Regions from separate parts of the Homo sapiens genome. Here region 2 is linked to region 1. The links come from fine-mapping of genetic effects on gene expression. Tissue or cell type: whole blood. Region 1 holds a variant in brackets; the other region holds the start of a gene. All regions are shown on one strand. Distances are from middle to middle.

Region 1 (5,204 bases):
TTCAGCCTGAGTCAGGTCTACAATGGCCACTATTTAGAAAATAATTTAAATCAGTGAGGTAAGCACGCCGATTTGAAATATATCCAAACATCATTAAGCCTCTGGGTCATAAAACTTGGTCCCTGAACTAACAGGAGTATCTTACTCATTAATGACTAGGTTTGTTCCAAACGGCCCCTGCTGACACACATGATCCTTTTGTGTGGCACAATAAATCTGGTAATAGCAGAACAATAGCATGGCTTTTAAATAGGGTAATTTTATAATTCCTTAAGATGCTGGTTTGCTTCTTATAATGTGTTGTGTGGATTACAGTACTTAGACAAGGTTCACATTTACTTTAAAAGACTTCTATATTTTAATGCAAATCTAAGGATCATCCCCTTTCTTAGTTTATAGAAGATTCAAACTTTGTAAAACATAAATAACCTAGTACTCTAAACATCTGAAGCCCTTTGTAATACTCACTGTTTTTTCCTAATTTGAAAATAACTTATTTATATATCAAACATTAGAGCGGAGTGTAAACATGGATGTCAATCACCCTTTTAGTTTCATAAATTTGCTTTTAGCTTTCATCAACAGGCATATTTTCTTAACCTACCATGATCTCAAATGAGATAAAATATCCTTCTTCAAAAATTGTTAAGAATATTTATTAAAAAGTGCAATTCAAAAGTTAGCTGGGCAAGCACATCATTGCAAATCACAAAAAAGGGTGAAAAAACCAAAACCCCCAAATAAAACCACATGAAATACAAACAAAACAAAACAAAAAGGTTTAAAAAAAAAGTGTGCTGAGGAATGCACCCAAAAAGACAAGGAAATGAGAAGTCAAAGCTAGAACTCTATCCAGATGTTGCTGTTCTTTCCAAGTGCAAAAGAAGGTGGTGAGGAGAGACCAGCAGCCTCCACCACCGAGTTCTGGCTCTGGGTCCAAATACTACTTTAATATCAGATTATTCATCAGGGAAGTTATAAAAATATCCTATATACATGTGCACATTTGAGGCATTTTAAAAAGTCATCAGAAGGTTAAAGTTTAGTGTCTCAGCAGTTTCAGCTACTTAAACTCAATTAAAGCATCTATCATTTAAATTTGGATTGGCTCAGTTATTTGACTGCAGATGATAAAATCAAGCTGTCATCTTAGGGAAAAAAAAGAACCAAGTTTACCTACACATCCTTGCCATTACCCACAGAGTAAGAGAAGTCTGGCCCAGAGCTAACCTTTTATGTCATTACGTTTCTTAATAAATGTAATAAATGTACTAACCACTCCCAACCCCAACCCCCAGTGTAGAGTGCCCTAAGAGTAAAAGAACTGTAATGAGGACAATCTGGTATCCAAATTCATTCAAGTGTGTTACTGAGCTGTTTAGCAACAACATATGTAGCAATCACCCTCAAAACGCAAGCTGCACCTCTGGGGAGGAAGCCCTGGTACAGCAACATCAAGTCGGCAAGGATCAGGAGCTGACCTGTGGCGACATCATTAACCCTTCCCTAAGCTATGCCAATGCAGAACCCTCTTGCTCTTTTTAATTGCTCCTGTCAGTTAAAGCCACAAGTTGTTAGCACCCCCAAACCCCAGGGTGTTTCATTATTTTCCATTAGTTATTCTTACCACAAAAAAAAATGACCTGGAAAAGCAATTTTATCTTAGCATTTATCCCTGAAAAATGAAACACTGCATTTTCTGTCACAAACTGTTTCTGAGCCTTCTGTCCTCAATAATCATCAGCTCTCAGGGGATAAGAAATGCTACAGCAATGGGAAACGAAACATACCCAGAAGCTCGTATTCCTGACAGGTTTCTTTAGATGGGACAGCGGTGCACTGTCTGAGCACGGGGAAGGGTCTGAGCAGAAGAAAAGAGCTGCCAAAGATGCATGGAATGAGCAACAGCAAAACACCAGTGGAGTCTGTAAGTCCCTCCTCAGCAAACGAGGTCCCGGAAGGCAAGGCAGCAGCTAGTTCTCCTCCGAACTGGACAGGCGGCATGGGGCTTCTGTTGTCCAGCTGCAGCCAGGAGTGCAGACATCTATTTCCTCTTCCCACTGGCCCTTCCAGCGCTGGGATGGAGGAGCCATGTCAATTGTGGGGTCACACGGAGAAAAGTCAGTGCAGCAGTATGTTTCCAGGATAGGAATGTGAGTAGACGGCAATGTCACACGTGCTCAGCTTCTCCTCCTCCCCTCGGTTCATATGCAGGAGGAACTCGCACCCAGAGGCCC[C/T]GCCGTCACAGCACTAAGAAGAGGATGAGCACAACCAACAGGACTGCAAAGAGGATGGCTATGGCACACCATTGGCGCCGATCTGGAAGGCAGGACATGGGGATTAGCTCTCACAGGGACTCCACATTCCCCAAGATACAGTTATATGGAATTTATGGCACCCTTTGAAGCAGAAAAGGGGCAGAACGTGCAAATGACGGGGCCATGATCTTACACCTGCCTAGGTGCCTGATGCTCTAATGCTGCTCTGTTCTTGGCCTGCACTTCGCATGCAGTCACAACTTTGCCAGTCCCCTGAAAATGTCTCGTAATAATTACATGCTTTGTGTCTCAAGTCTTTAATTAAAATCTGCGGATCTTAGCTTTCTGCTGGTAGTTAGCATATCCTCAAAAAAGGTGTTGGCAATGGTGTTACAGATCAAAGCCTGCCTGCTTTAATCTCCCATAAAAGTCAAGTCATTTAATTAAACAATAATCACATTCTTTTCTCAATGAGCACAACGGGAGGAGGGAAAGGAGATGAAAGCTACTGCTGGTCACTTCAGGAAATATACAGCTGAAAAAGCAAGCTCCAGTGAGACAGCATGATTAATTTCACACCACACCTAGTCAAGTAAGATTACTTAACTAGTAACTGTGTTAAAGTACCTTGTACAGCTCCTCTGTAAATGAAAGTGGAATTTTTTTTCTGAAACTTTCTGCCCTACCAACAATTTGGAACAGCAGGCACAGGAAACAACTTGACTAGAGTCCATCCAAATGGCTGAGAGCAGGGAGGCCCTGTGAGACAGAAGGGCCCAGACAGGCCCTGGGGGAGCCCTGCTGCAGCTCACAATCCTGTGGTCCCAACTCTACAACAGCTGCCCCGCAGGGCTGTTGTGAGAATTAAACAACACAACCCTGTCATACACACACTGTGCAATACCCAAACCTAGGGCACAGAGGATGCTGTCAACATCAGGATGCTTCCTTAATTTGGAGACATGTAGAAAAAATGAGCAGTCCTTCCACTGATGAGTTTTGGCATCTTCCACAAAGGGCCCGACTGATAACAGAATTCACTAGCGTATGAAAATGCAGTACAACCACTAGGAATAAGAGTTCCATTTAAATAGAAATATAAAGACATATTGATTCACTAAAGTTTCTTTGAAAGCCCACTGATTTTAGCACACTATAGTTATTGAGAATCACGTTGCAAAAAGATCTCAATCTATGAAAATAAACTGCTAAACTCTCCACAAGGCAAAACATGTACTTAAAATTATTTTAAATATTATGGATATCAAAGTCTTAGAACTGGACAAGAGAACTGCCACCAAATTATAAGTAAAGCAAGTACCTTCTAAGTGGTGATCACCTTGGTCTACCTCAGACATACTAGAAACTCATTTAGTTAACTCTGAGCAGGACAAAGACCCCAGGTCCATCACTCGTTGTTCTCAGGTAGGACTGTTCCAAAGGTCTAGGGAAGGCAGAGATGGCCTACTGCAGGTCACACTTTGACCTGTTTAACTATTACTTCAATGGTCAAGAAAACTTTTATAACTGGCATTCTCTCATCTGATTAAAAATGTTAAATTTTTAATTTCCAGCCAAGTATGTAAGAAGCTTAGAAGTCATCACTCTGTCGTAACAAGTAAAAAGCTGAACAAACTGAAAAAGCAAAACTCTTCTTAGATCCATCAGAGAAGTGAGGTCACATGGTAAACTGCTGCCCCTAAAACTGCAGAAACCTACAGATGCATACAGAGAATCACAGCTTATCAGAGCAGAAACCCACGAAGCAACAAACTCCATAGGAACCAGTGTTCTGGTAGGAAAACCTTAGCTTTAATTGATGAGTCGCTGAAGGCTCAGTGTGGACAAGTCTGAGATGAAAAACAAACAAACAAAAACACTCCAGGTGGACCCAGGCGAAGGGGACCCCCACACTTCTGTGGGTTTTACCTCCAGGAGCTTGACCAGGTTCTCAGCGAATATTGGGAAAAATCCCCTCATGCTTCCAGCAGGCGGAGGGGAAAAAGAATCACTACGAAATACTCCAGAGCACTCTGTTCTAAACAAAGTCTGCCCTCAAAAGAAACTAACCAGAGTCTGACTAACCTGGGGGAAGGAAAATACCCAACTCCAGTCTTCTCTAGCCATCCAGTTCCACCTAACAGTAGAAAAACTGGGAAGCACTAGTGAAGTTCACGGGCCAGGGGCACAGGCTCACCAGAGGCTAAGACCTAATCACAGGACTAGAAAATGCCACCCCCCGGCCTCACCACCCCATCTATGGTAAAGGTCTATTTACCACAGTTCCTTTTACCCAGTATATCATGTCCACTTTTCAACAAAAAGGTAAAAGGCACACTAAAGGAAAAAGCAACAGTAGGAAGAAACTGCATATGCATCAGAACCAGAGTCAGATACAGCAGGAATGTTGGAATTATCAGAAGAGGAATTTTTAAAACTATGATTAATATGCTACAGGCTTTAATGGAAAAAGTAAACAACATGCAAGAACACATGGATAATGTAGGCAGAGACATGGAAATTCTAGAATGAAAAAAATAGAGATCAAAAAGACTACACAAATGAAGAATGCCCCTAATGGGCTCATTAGTAGGCTAAACACAGCTAAGGAAAGGATCTCTGAGCTTCACAATTTGTCAACAGAAACCTGAAAAAAGAAAAAAAGACTGAAAAAAAACCTGGCACAGAATATTCCAGAAATGTGGAACAACTATAAGACTTACCATAACATCAATCAAGATAATGTAGTATTAGGAAAATAGACAAGCAGATCAATGGAACAGACAGTCCAGAAATAGGCTGACATAAATACAGTCAACTGATCTTTCACAAAGGAGCAAGTGCAATACAACAGAGCAAAGAGAGTCTTTTCAACAAATGGTGCTGAAACAACTGGACATCCATGCCAAAAAAATGAAGTTGGAGGCAGACTTTACACCTTAACAA
Region 2 (5,129 bases), 22 kb before region 1:
GGCCAGGGTGCCAGCTGTGGTTAAAAAAAAAAAAAAATCCTGGAACCAAGAAACCCAACCCTCAGCAGAATCGGGTTTAAAAGAGTGTCAGGGCAGCTTTCATTGGGCAAGAACACTGAAGCAGGCCTGTGGCCCAGGGACAAGGTCGTGGGGGTGGGGAGGCAGTCCTGTGCAGTGTTGGGAGTGTGTTCCCCCACCCAGGGCCTTTGCAGCAGGAGCCAGGTAGAACCCTGTCTTCATGATGCCCATGGGAGGAGAGGGAGGGGCTGAGCCCCATGGCTCACAGAATGGGGTAGGGGGGTGGAGGAGGAATTAGGGGGATCTGGCAGGTGAGCAGAGGGGCCAGAGGAACAAGTGCTTGGGGCTTCAGGCTGTGAAGAGGGCACTGGCACTCTTCAAAGTGTAGAAATGAGCCCACAGCAAGAAACTTCAAGTGTGGAGAAACCCTGGCTCCTCCTATACTGCAATTCTTGGCCTAAGGTCACAAAACTGGAGAAATTTCATGTTGAGAAAAGCTCCTGGGGGCCAAAGACAGCTCCACTTTTCTCTGAAAAGGACAACTTGCCTTCCCAGGTGGGAGGAGGTGGAAGGGGGTGGCTGGGGCTGGGAGGACGGGAAAAGGCCTCAGGCGTATCACCTCCCGGGCTGGTGACATACTTAGTCCTTAAATAGTCCTGCCAGGTATGTCCTGCTCATTGTCTTCATTTTGCATAGATGGGGAACCAAGTTCAGCAGCAGTGACAGGGCATGCAATCCTGCCCCTCTGACTTGGGGCCCACTTTTCCCACTGCAGCTGCCTCCCCATGCCAGAAAAGGCTTGGTGCTAGGGGAGGGGCACGAGGCACGCGGGACACTGGAGGCTCCCAGGCCTCTGGACGGTGACCTAATTCCAAGGAGGCAAAGGCGCTGGCATCCCAGCTTCTCCCTGGGGCAGCCTGATGTGCAGGCCCTGCCTTGTGTGGAAATGGGAGGGGGCTTTGGTTCCTCCAGCCTCCTGTTTGACCTTCCCCAACTGCCTGCATCTGCCTGCCTGGGGAGCTGCTGACCTCGAAGGCCTAGGGCAGCCCTGCCTCACACACTGGAACATCAGAACCTTTTTTTTTTTTTTTTTTTTTTTTTTTTTGAGACAGTGTCTCACTCTGTTGCCCAGGCTTGGAGTGCAATGGCACAGTATCAGCTCACTGTAACCTCCGCTTCCTGGGCTCAAGTGATTCTCCTTCCCCAGCCTCCCAAGTAGCTGGGACTACAGGCGCCTGCCACTATGTCTAGCTAATTTTTGTATTTTTGGTAGAGACAGGGTTTCACTATGTTGGCCAGGCTGGTCTCGAACTCCTGACCTCATGTGATCCGCCCGACTCAGCCTCCCAAAGTGCTGGCCTGAGCCATAGTGCCTGGGCCATCAGAACCTTCTTACTGAGAGCTTATTAACCAGGAACCAGGCCTAGGCCAGGCAAGAGCCCCCGGACTTAAGAAAGACCCGCAGCCTCAAGGGGCCCCAGCCCAGGGGGAGGCACACACACATTACAGCGCCGGATGCAGGGTATGCTGCAAGAGGAGCTGCAGCCGGTGTAGCCTGTGGGTAGCCTGTGGACAGCCTGGGGCCGTGATTCGTGGTTGGCCGGGTAGTTGGCAAGGGCGCCAACCGGGCAGGTGAGCACAAGCAGGGCTTTGTAAAACGAGTAGGAAGCTACAGCAAGGGCCAAGTGGCTCAGGCACAGAAACGAAGCAGCCACATGCAAAGGTGTGGGTATTCCCGGTGTCTAACTTATGTCCCTCCCGCGGTTCACAGAAGGCCCCTGACACTGGGACTACACGGAGCAGAAAGTGGCACCCCTTTGCCTCAGGCACCTCAGTCTCCTCGGGGCTTGGGGGCATTTTCAGAAGCCACCCGCAGAACCAGCGTCCCGGGCGGCGGCTGGTTTTCCCCTCTTTCCCGGGGGCCCCCCTCTGTCGCTGCGGGGTGCAGCGGCGGCGAGAGATATCCGCAGCTGGCACCCGGTGTCCCGGGAGGGAGAATCGGGGTCTGTCGCGGGCCCTGCGACCAGGAGGCGACTGTGCCCTCAGCAGCTGCCCCGCGCCCGCCCCGCCCTCAGGCCACTAGAGGCAACCTCGCAGCGACTCCGGTGCCCCCCCAAGTCTCCCTGGCAGGGCGGGCTGTCCCCACCGGCCAGGGCAGGCAGCGGGCGGCCGCTTGCTCTGCACCCGCAGACTCCGCGCCAGCCGCGCCTTCCCGGCCACGCGGCCGCCCGCGGAGTGTTCCCGCCGCGCAGACAGGAGGCGTGGGGCCAGGCAGCACAGCCAACAGCCTCTGTCCGCGTCCTCCCGCGGGGCCTCGCGCGGGCGGGGGTGAGAGGGGAGCGGCCCGTTGCGCTGCCTGGGGGTCGCCAGGGCCTTCGTGCCAAGGCCGCTTCCGCGAGGCGGGGTGTGTCCAGCAGGGCACCGGCTGTTAGAGCCGCGGGGGCCTGCAGCCTGAGGGTGGAGGGAGGGCGGGCTCGCGGGAGTTTTGCAAACCCCGCCCCCAGCACACGCGCGCACGCGTACACGCACACACACTGCTGGGCTCACCCTGCCTTTGAGAAACGCACGGCTGGGGAGGCGGACGGGGCCTACTGGTGCACCGCACGGTCCCGGGCCTTGCTGAAAGGTGATGTGGAGGCGGCGCGCCGAGCCAGACTGGGAGGATGAGCTGGAGCTGGCCGGAGGGATGGGGAGGAAGTGGGGCGACCTATGGACCCTCATGTCCGTGGGGCGGGGGCGGGGTGTGCAGGAATGAGTACCTGGTGCATGAGTGTCCCCAGCTTTCAGGCGTGCTGGAAAAACCGCAGGCCGGCTCGAATTTTGGAAACCAGTGTTAACCAGGACTTCAAGGACCTGCCTTCGTTGGGCTGTCCCTCGCCTTGCCCTGCCAGCTACGCAAATGTTCCAGAGCTCTGTTGAGGTCATTAAATCACCCTGAATCCATACGGCAACACTGCGAGAGAGAGACTATTATACCAGGCTAACGCACGAGGAGTCCGAGGCTCAAAGGTTAATTCACAGATAGATCCAAGGTCTGGGAGCCAATCAAAAGCGGAGGCAGGATTTGAACCTGGCCCTCTGTGACTTCCAGCCAGCATCCTTCCACCCTCCTGGGTCCCTCTGCAGCTCACCTCCCTTGGAGGCCCTCGAGCAGCTCTGGAGGCCCTGCTTGGCCTGCCCGCCACTGACCTTCACCAGGACGCAGGGGCTCTCATTTTGGTTTTTCTTCTGGGAAGTGGGGCTGGAGAAGAGCAGGCAGATCCCTTTCCAGGGCAGTGTTTCCAAACTGCAGGCACAATTCACTCATGGGTTATAAAAGCAATTTTGTGGGTTGAGACCAACATTAAATTAAAATAAAAATTAGAGTGCTTTATACAAGCCAAGGGTAGGTTAGGTTTTGAGAAATGCTTCTGCAAGTGTGTACCGAGTTGTAATTTAAAGTGGGTTATGGCTCTGTTCTGCGGGGAGGCAGAAGAAACCCTCAGGGCTATGGCCTGGCCCCTGGGGTAGTGGGGAAGAGGCCTCCATCCTAGATGCCCAGGTGTCCTGGGCAGCTGTTTGTTTCCACCTCTTTTCCGGGTGTGCCAAGAAGAGGCCTATGACCCAGGAGAGGAGGGCAATGATGCGACTGTGGACTTCTTAGTCTTCCAAACTGCCTCTGGGCACAGGATTCTTGTGTGGGTATTATTGGCAGGAGCTTTGTTTGTTGGCTCCTGGATCCCACTAGCCCCAACTTCACCCATCCATGCACCCACCTACTCTCTCATGCTTTATGCATGTGCCTTGGCTGGAATGCCTTTTCCCTGTCCCCCCACAAACCCCGTGGCAGCCTTCAAAAATATTAGAGGTGTCTGTCTCTGGAAGCATTCCCGATACTGCATGCTGACTTCGGCTCCTCCCCTTAAATCCCATAGGATCTTGTACCAAGGGCTCTTTATTGTGACTCTTTAGGTAGAATTGCTTGTTTATCCTCCACTAAACTTACCTGGCAACAAGTGGACTTCCCTAGTTCATCTACCCAACCCATTTCCCACCCCAAGTCCCCAGACTAGTTCTGGAGCGACTCAAAAGGCCCTGCTGCACCTGCATGAACAGGCCTTCCCCTTTCTCCCTCCCTCCCCCACATATCCGCAGAGAAGTTTCCCTCTTTCCTACAAAGCCAGAGCACCTGCTTAGAAATGGCAAGAGCCTTCCTTGGCAAGAAGCTCTGCCCAGCGCTCTCTGGCTGTGGGTTGGCCAGGTCGGAGTGCTGGACCCTGAGGAAAGGGGCTGCGGGGACTGGCGCTGATATGTGCCCATGGAGCCAGGGCTTAACAGCTGCCCTGCCAGTCCTGGAGGGTATCCGGAGCTCTCCTGTGGCTGCCAGGCTGCCTGCCGGGCCTGCCTTTGTCTTGTCCTTCTGCAGTCTGGGCTCAGGCCCCTACTCACAGTGTGGAGCTGCCCTTAGGGTTCTGGCCCAGTGCCAGGCACTGGGGAGGGGCCTGTCCTGCCCTTAGGATACCCTCATCCCCAGGATGGATACAGCTTTGGTTGTGAAAAAAGGCCAGCGTGCAGGGCTACAATGGAAGCCCCAAGGCAGGAGGCCCCACTCTACCTAAGGAGCAGAAAGGCTCCCAGGAGAGCCAGCTCTAGGACCCCATGCCCCCCAAGACCCCAAGCTCACCAGCCTCCATCCAGCTCTGGTGTTAACTCAGGAACAAGGGGTGCTGGCAGCCATGGGAGTGGCATTCAGAGGCCACAATTTTCATTCTCATCCTGAGCTCCCCAGACTAAGTCTCCAGGCTTTTCTGGGTTTATACAGTAAGGGGTTTGGCTCATTTACTTTTTGCTTATTTCCAGCCAAATACACAAAAGCTCCAAAACATTTATCAGCAAGGCGGACCTGTGTGAAACCCTGAGCCAGTAGATCTCTTGAACCCTACAGTGGACTTGAAATGCGGTCAAGTCCAAGGCAACTGATATCCATGCTTTATCCCAGGTACTTCTAGTTCAGTGCTTTAATCTGCCACTAACTGGCACCGCTTTTGTGACCCCTCTCCCCACTCCTCAGCCTTATGTTACCACTTCTCATGTTAGAGGGATGGCTTAGTGAGACATCTGCTTGCCACCAC

What was found. PIP is the estimated chance that this variant, and not a neighbour inherited with it, causes the effect.
Region 2: KIAA1614-AS1 starts here. The variant in region 1 is fine-mapped to the expression of KIAA1614-AS1 in whole blood (TOPMed, PIP above 0.99).

The regions. Positions count from the first base shown.
Region 1 is chr1:180,974,328-180,979,531 of GRCh38, forward strand. It overlaps STX6 (syntaxin 6), which reads right to left. Exons shown (of 8, transcript NM_005819.6): 8 at 1-2,319. The coding sequence ends at 2,243. Among named protein-coding and RNA genes, the nearest start is that of KIAA1614-AS1, 22 kb to the left of the region's middle. The variant C/T (reference allele first, on the strand shown) is at 2,238.
Region 2 is chr1:180,951,891-180,957,019 of GRCh38, forward strand. KIAA1614-AS1 (KIAA1614 antisense RNA 1) reads right to left here and starts at 2,997. Exons shown (of 2, transcript NR_145481.1): 1 at 2,778-2,997. RefSeq lists a silencer at 2,052-2,591 and an enhancer at 2,627-3,232.